2 linked regions of the Homo sapiens genome follow. The protein of the gene in region 1 purifies or fractionates together with the protein of each later gene. This does not show direct contact. Each region holds a gene or a part of one and is shown on either strand. Other genes may lie near its edges.

Evidence for each region. The genes of interacting proteins can lie anywhere in the genome.
Region 2: the proteins of SETD1A (region 1) and ATN1 purify together in Homo sapiens (affinity purification with mass spectrometry, with the first as the bait; one large-scale study listed by BioGRID). This does not show direct contact.

What each region holds. Positions count from the first base shown.
Region 1 is NC_000016.10:30,974,754-30,978,253, forward strand, and holds part of SETD1A (histone-lysine N-methyltransferase SETD1A), read left to right. Parts: intron 1-3,500. UniProt on the Homo sapiens protein: Histone methyltransferase that catalyzes methyl group transfer from S-adenosyl-L-methionine to the epsilon-amino group of 'Lys-4' of histone H3 (H3K4) via a non-processive mechanism.
Region 2 is NC_000012.12:6,934,459-6,937,958, forward strand, and holds part of ATN1 (atrophin-1), read left to right. Parts: intron 1-6; coding exon 7-120; intron 121-1,088; coding exon 1,089-3,103; intron 3,104-3,386; coding exon 3,387-3,500. UniProt on the Homo sapiens protein: Transcriptional corepressor. Recruits NR2E1 to repress transcription. Promotes vascular smooth cell (VSMC) migration and orientation. Corepressor of MTG8 transcriptional repression.

The DNA.
Region 1 (3,500 bases):
CCCAGCACTTTGGGAGGCTGAGGTGGGCAGATCACTTGACGTCAGGAGTTCGAGACCAGTCTAGCCAACATGGTGAAACCCCATCTTAACTAAAAATACAAAAATTAGGCTGGGTGCGGTGGCTCACGCCTGTAATCCCAGCACTTGGGAGGGCTGAGGCGGGCAGATCACGAGGTCAAGAGATCAAGACCATCCTGGCCAGCACCAACATGGTGAAACCCCATCTCTACTAAAAATACAAAAACTAGCTGGGCATAGTGGCACATGCCTGTAATCCCAGCTACTCGGGAGGCTGAGGCAGGAGTAATCGCTTGAACCGGGGAAGCAGAAGTAGCCATGAGCCGAGATCGTGCCACTGCACTCCAGCCTGGTGACAGAGCGAGACTGTCTCCAAAAAAAAAAAAAAATTAGCCATGCATGCTGGCAGGCGCCTGTAATCCCAGCTGCTCAGGAGCCTGAGGCAGGAGAATCACCTGAACCTGGGAGGTGGAGGTTGCGGTGAGCCGAAATTGTACCACTGCACTCCAGCCTGGGCGACAGAGCGAGACTTCGTCTCAAAAAAAAGAATTGGGGGTTGTGATATCAGCTCCCATGTGTCAAGTACCTATGTGTGCCAGGCTCTAGGCATAGCATGTTGACAATTCATTTTCTCATTGAATCCCCACAACCTCTCCCTTTTTTTTTTTTTTTTTTTTGAGATGGAGTCTCATTGTGTTACCCAGCCGGGAGTGCAGTGGTGCAATCTCGGCTCACTGCAACCTCCGCTTCCCGGGTTCATGTGATTCTCCTGCCTCAGCTTCCCAAGCAGCTGGGATTACAGGTGCACACTGCCACGCCTGGCTAATTTTCGTATTTTTAGTTGAGACAGGGTCTCACCATGTTGCCCAGGCTGGTCTCAAACCCCTGACCTCAAGTTATCAGCCCACTTTGGCCTCCCAAAGTACTGGGATTACAGGTGTGAGCCACTGCGCTTGCCCCACAACCTCCCTGTGATTCCCATTTTATAGATGAGGGCTTCAAGGCTTAGTGAGATGCAGGAACAAACTAAGGTTACCAGCCAGAGCTGGAGGGAGAGCAAGAAGAGAGGGCAGGGTTGAGGGAGGGGTTAGCTTTTCCAAGTAGATGAGGTTTGGGCATGTTCCACTGAAGGGAACGGGCCAGGTAGATGTGCCGGGAGAGAGGAATGCTTGCTGGCATGGCCTTTTTGGGGAGGTGGAGGAGTAGCTTCCAGATCTGATGCAGTTATACCCTTCGGTGGGGAGGCAGGGAGATGGGGGTGTTGTGCCTGAGTCCTCTTTTGACCCTGTTGCTGTAGGACTGTGAGAGGAAGAGTGGAGTAAGAACCTTGGAAAGTGGAGAAAAGTTGCTCCAGTCCAGGCGCGGTGGCTCACACATGTAATCCCAGCACTTTGGGAGGCCGAGGCAGGAGGATCTCTTGAGCCCAGAAGTTCGAGACCAGTCTGGCTAACAACAACAACAAAAAAAGCCAGGCATAGTGGCACATGCCTGTGGTCCCAGCTTCTGGGGAGGCTGAGTCGGGAGGATTGCTTGAGCCTAGGAGGTTGAGGAGGCTGCAGTAAACAGTGATTGTGCCGCTGCACTGTATCCTGGAGACAGAGCAAGCCTCTCGCCTGGGCCTCCCCATGCTGGAAGGCCTTGCCAGAGCTGGGGCCTGGGAGTGAGGGGAGAAGAGGCTGCTGGCTGGCTCCACAGGGTAAAGGTGTGGTGGAATGATGAGGACCTGGGGCTGTGCTGGGACAGGAGAGGGCAAAGTACGGGCCCTGGGGTCTGGGCAGGGTGGAGGAGGAAGTTGGGAAGAGGGTGATGTGCTAGAGGGAAACTGAAGGATGGGAAGTTGAAGGTGCAGTGGGGCAGACTGAATGGACAGTGGGGAATGTTGGAGAGGATGGGGAATCTCCAAGGCGGAGCCATTCTGGGATTGACAAGGCCAGGTGTGTGGCTGCTTGAGGGGAGCTGAGGGTGATTGAAGGGGATCACTGGAGATGCAAGAATCCAGGTAAACAGGCGTGATTGCCAAGTCCCCTGGGGAGGTGGCAGAGGTGGAAGAGGAGAGGAAGATGCAGGCAGCCCCTTGGTGTCTGGATAGTGAGAGGGCACGACAAGGGAGTCTGAGTTACCGAGGACAGAGGAGCCGTGGCTCAGAGCAAGGGGTGCTTAGTGAAGGCTCACTGTGTTTCTTCTCTTTTTTTTTTGAGATGGAGTCTCGCTTTGTCACCAGGCTGGAATGCAGTGGTGCCATCTCGACTTACTGCATCCTCAGCCTCCCAGGTTCAAGTGATTCTCCTGCCTCAGCCTCCCGAGTAGGTGGGACTAAGGCACGCGCCATCACGCCCGCTAATTTTTGTATTTTTAGTAGAGACGGGATTTCACCATGTTGGTCAGGATGGTCTCGATCTCTTGACCTCATGGTCCACCCGCCTCGGCCTCCCAAAGTGCTGGGATTACAGGCGTGAGCCCCCTCGCCCGGCCAGCTCACCGAGTTTCTAATAACCAGAACCAGTTTCAGTCACCACCGTCTTAGTGATTGCCGCCTGGGGATGTTAGTGATGGCCCTGGGGAGGGGCAGGTTATGCAGTAGGAACTGGCTTCTGGGGCCTCGCCCCATGGACCTGAGCGTGGCAGTAGAGCAGTTCTCAGAGGAAGGTGGTGGGAGTCATATTGACTGGGCAGGTGCCCCCAAAAGTTGTCTCCTAAATGAGAGGGATGGGCAGGTTCCCTTTGGGACAGTCGCAGAGGGAAGTGTGTGTGCAGCAGCTGTGCTGGTGGAGGAGTGTGTTCTTCGAGCGAGGCTTCCCGAGGACATGCATGCTGAAGCGTGAGGTGGTCTGTAGGGGGCGCTGCCCCAGCGTGGTGGGGAGGAAGGTGAGAGGAGGCCTGCATGCATCTGGGTCCTCACTGGCTTCCTGGAGTGGGTTGCTGCCACAGGCTGAGACCCCAGCGGGTGTCTAGAGCCTAAGGTGCAGCCAAGAGCCTGGCTCAGGGCGCCAGGGTTGGGAGTGCGGTGGACTCAGGTGAATCGCTGCCTCCTAGGGCCGGGCCTGGTGCCGGCGGCCCTGTTGGCGCTGAGCGGGGAAGCCAGTTGTGAAGCCAGTGAGTCCGTGGGCTGCAGTTCAGAGCATGAGCTCAACCCACATGGCCTGGGAGCAGAGCTTGTTCTGTCATCTGGTAACTGACCACATCTCTGTGCCTCAGTTTTCCTGTCTGTAAGATAGGACCCTCTGCTGGGTACAGTGGCTCACGCCTGTAACCCCAGCACTTTGGGAGGCCGAGGCGGGCAGATCACGAGGTCAAGAGATCGAGACCATCCTGGCCAACATGGTGAAACCCTGCTTCTACTAAAAATACAAAACTTAGCTGGGTGTGGTGGTGCATGCCTGTAGTCCCAGCTACTCGGGAGGCTGAGGCAGGAGAATCGCTTGAACCCGGGAGGCGGAGGTTGCAGTAAGCCGAGATTGCGCCACTGCACTCCCACCTGGCGA
Region 2 (3,500 bases), on another chromosome or scaffold:
TAACAGAAGGCCCGAGTAGAGGAAGCCTCCACCCCAAAGGTCAACAAGCAGGGTCGGAGTGAGGAGATCTCAGAGAGTGAAAGTGAGGAGACCAATGCACCAAAAAAGACCAAAACTGAGGTGGGAAACCCTTGTCGCCATCCTGACCCATCTTGTGACCATTCTTTTCTCAGACTTGCTTATGCTCACTATTCTTAGCTGGATCTCTCCTGGGACATAAGAGAAAGGCCAGATCATAGTGCTTATGAGAGCAGTTCTGTCTATAATATGCCAGAGAGATTCTTAGAGCTTTGACAGACCACCAGATGACCAGGCAGGGCCAAAGGGGACCAGAAGAGTTGGGGGATTCTAGTCTCTGGGTGAGAAGTCTTAGTCGGAGGAACAAATAAATCTTAAGGAAAATGCAGAAGTGGTCTTTCTTTTTTATTGTTTTTTTTTGTTTGTTTGTTTTTGAGACAGTTTCGCTCTGTCACCCAGGCTGGAGTACAGTGGCACAATCTCAGCTCATTGCAACCTCCGCCTCCTGGGTTCAAACAATTGTGCCTCAGCCTCCCGAGTGGCTGGGATTATAGGCATGAGCCACCATGCCCGGCTAATTTTTGTATTTTTGGTAGAGACAGTGTTTCACCATGTTGGCCAGGCTGGTTTGGAACTCCTGGCATCAAGTGATCCGCCCGCTTCAGCTTCCCAAAGTGCTGGGATTACAGGTGTAAGCCTCTGTGCCCGGCCAGAAGTGGTATAAAAACCAAGGGCTTGGGGGATGGAGGATGGTTAAAGTGGTGGTTATGAGATGGTGGAAGACAGGGAGTTGGAGTCAGCTGTGGGTAGAGACAAGGTGCTTGAGATGGATCCTTGAGGAAGGAATAGGGTTTTACAGGCGGGAAACAAGACTGGCTGCTAGGGAGCAGCCAAGAATGTGAGGAAAGTGAGAAATCCCCAGATGGTAAGAGGTGGGCTTGAGCAAGAGTACTCACCACATCACAGTACAACAGTGTGCTGTGAGGGGAAATGATTTTATGCAAGAGAGCCCCAAATCTCAGGGAAGCAGGAAAGGAAAAGAGAAAAAATGAGTCTTCCCTTTTCTACAGCAGGAACTCCCTCGGCCACAGTCTCCCTCCGATCTGGATAGCTTGGACGGGCGGAGCCTTAATGATGATGGCAGCAGCGACCCTAGGGATATCGACCAGGACAACCGAAGCACGTCCCCCAGTATCTACAGCCCTGGAAGTGTGGAGAATGACTCTGACTCATCTTCTGGCCTGTCCCAGGGCCCAGCCCGCCCCTACCACCCACCTCCACTCTTTCCTCCTTCCCCTCAACCGCCAGACAGCACCCCTCGACAGCCAGAGGCTAGCTTTGAACCCCATCCTTCTGTGACACCCACTGGATATCATGCTCCCATGGAGCCCCCCACATCTCGAATGTTCCAGGCTCCTCCTGGGGCCCCTCCCCCTCACCCACAGCTCTATCCTGGGGGCACTGGTGGAGTTTTGTCTGGACCCCCAATGGGTCCCAAGGGGGGAGGGGCTGCCTCATCAGTGGGGGGCCCTAATGGGGGTAAGCAGCACCCCCCACCCACTACTCCCATTTCAGTATCAAGCTCTGGGGCTAGTGGTGCTCCCCCAACAAAGCCGCCTACCACTCCAGTGGGTGGTGGGAACCTACCTTCTGCTCCACCACCAGCCAACTTCCCCCATGTGACACCGAACCTGCCTCCCCCACCTGCCCTGAGACCCCTCAACAATGCATCAGCCTCTCCCCCTGGCCTGGGGGCCCAACCACTACCTGGTCATCTGCCCTCTCCCCACGCCATGGGACAGGGTATGGGTGGACTTCCTCCTGGCCCAGAGAAGGGCCCAACTCTGGCTCCTTCACCCCACTCTCTGCCTCCTGCTTCCTCTTCTGCTCCAGCGCCCCCCATGAGGTTTCCTTATTCATCCTCTAGTAGTAGCTCTGCAGCAGCCTCCTCTTCCAGTTCTTCCTCCTCTTCCTCTGCCTCCCCCTTCCCAGCTTCCCAGGCATTGCCCAGCTACCCCCACTCTTTCCCTCCCCCAACAAGCCTCTCTGTCTCCAATCAGCCCCCCAAGTATACTCAGCCTTCTCTCCCATCCCAGGCTGTGTGGAGCCAGGGTCCCCCACCACCTCCTCCCTATGGCCGCCTCTTAGCCAACAGCAATGCCCATCCAGGCCCCTTCCCTCCCTCTACTGGGGCCCAGTCCACCGCCCACCCACCAGTCTCAACACATCACCATCACCACCAGCAACAGCAACAGCAGCAGCAGCAGCAGCAGCAGCAGCAGCAGCAGCAGCAGCAGCATCACGGAAACTCTGGGCCCCCTCCTCCTGGAGCATTTCCCCACCCACTGGAGGGCGGTAGCTCCCACCACGCACACCCTTACGCCATGTCTCCCTCCCTGGGGTCTCTGAGGCCCTACCCACCAGGGCCAGCACACCTGCCCCCACCTCACAGCCAGGTGTCCTACAGCCAAGCAGGCCCCAATGGCCCTCCAGTCTCTTCCTCTTCCAACTCTTCCTCTTCCACTTCTCAAGGGTCCTACCCATGTTCACACCCCTCCCCTTCCCAGGGCCCTCAAGGGGCGCCCTACCCTTTCCCACCGGTGCCTACGGTCACCACCTCTTCGGCTACCCTTTCCACGGTCATTGCCACCGTGGCTTCCTCGCCAGCAGGCTACAAAACGGCCTCCCCACCTGGGCCCCCACCGTACGGAAAGAGAGCCCCGTCCCCGGGGGCCTACAAGACAGCCACCCCACCCGGATACAAACCCGGGTCGCCTCCCTCCTTCCGAACGGGGACCCCACCGGGCTATCGAGGAACCTCGCCACCTGCAGGCCCAGGGACCTTCAAGCCGGGCTCGCCCACCGTGGGACCTGGGCCCCTGCCACCTGCGGGGCCCTCAGGCCTGCCATCGCTGCCACCACCACCTGCGGCCCCTGCCTCAGGGCCGCCCCTGAGCGCCACGCAGATCAAACAGGAGCCGGCTGAGGAGTATGAGACCCCCGAGAGCCCGGTGCCCCCAGCCCGCAGCCCCTCGCCCCCTCCCAAGGTGGTAGATGTACCCAGCCATGCCAGTCAGTCTGCCAGGTGAGCGGCCAGGTGGGGCGGAGGTGGGCCTGGAAAGGGGACGACGACAAGGCGGCGACGAGAGAGGGAGTAGCAGGGAGGGGCCTTGCGCTGGTGTAGTGTTTTAGAAAAGCACGCCCCTCTCCTCCGTCCAGGCCTAGTGGCCAGTGAGGCCCGCAGCAGCTCACAGCCTGCAGGGGTGGTTTTGAGGCGGGGGCTACAAGCACTCGCCGGGGCCGCGGCGCTGCGGGCTCCATCGGGCAGCTCGCACCGCCTGAGCGCCCGCTGCTTCCACGCCCGGCAGGTTCAACAAACACCTGGATCGCGGCTTCAACTCGTGCGCGCGCAGCGACCTGTACTTCGTGCCACTGGAGGGCTCCAAGCTGGCCAAGAAGCGGGCCGACCTGGTGGAGAAGGT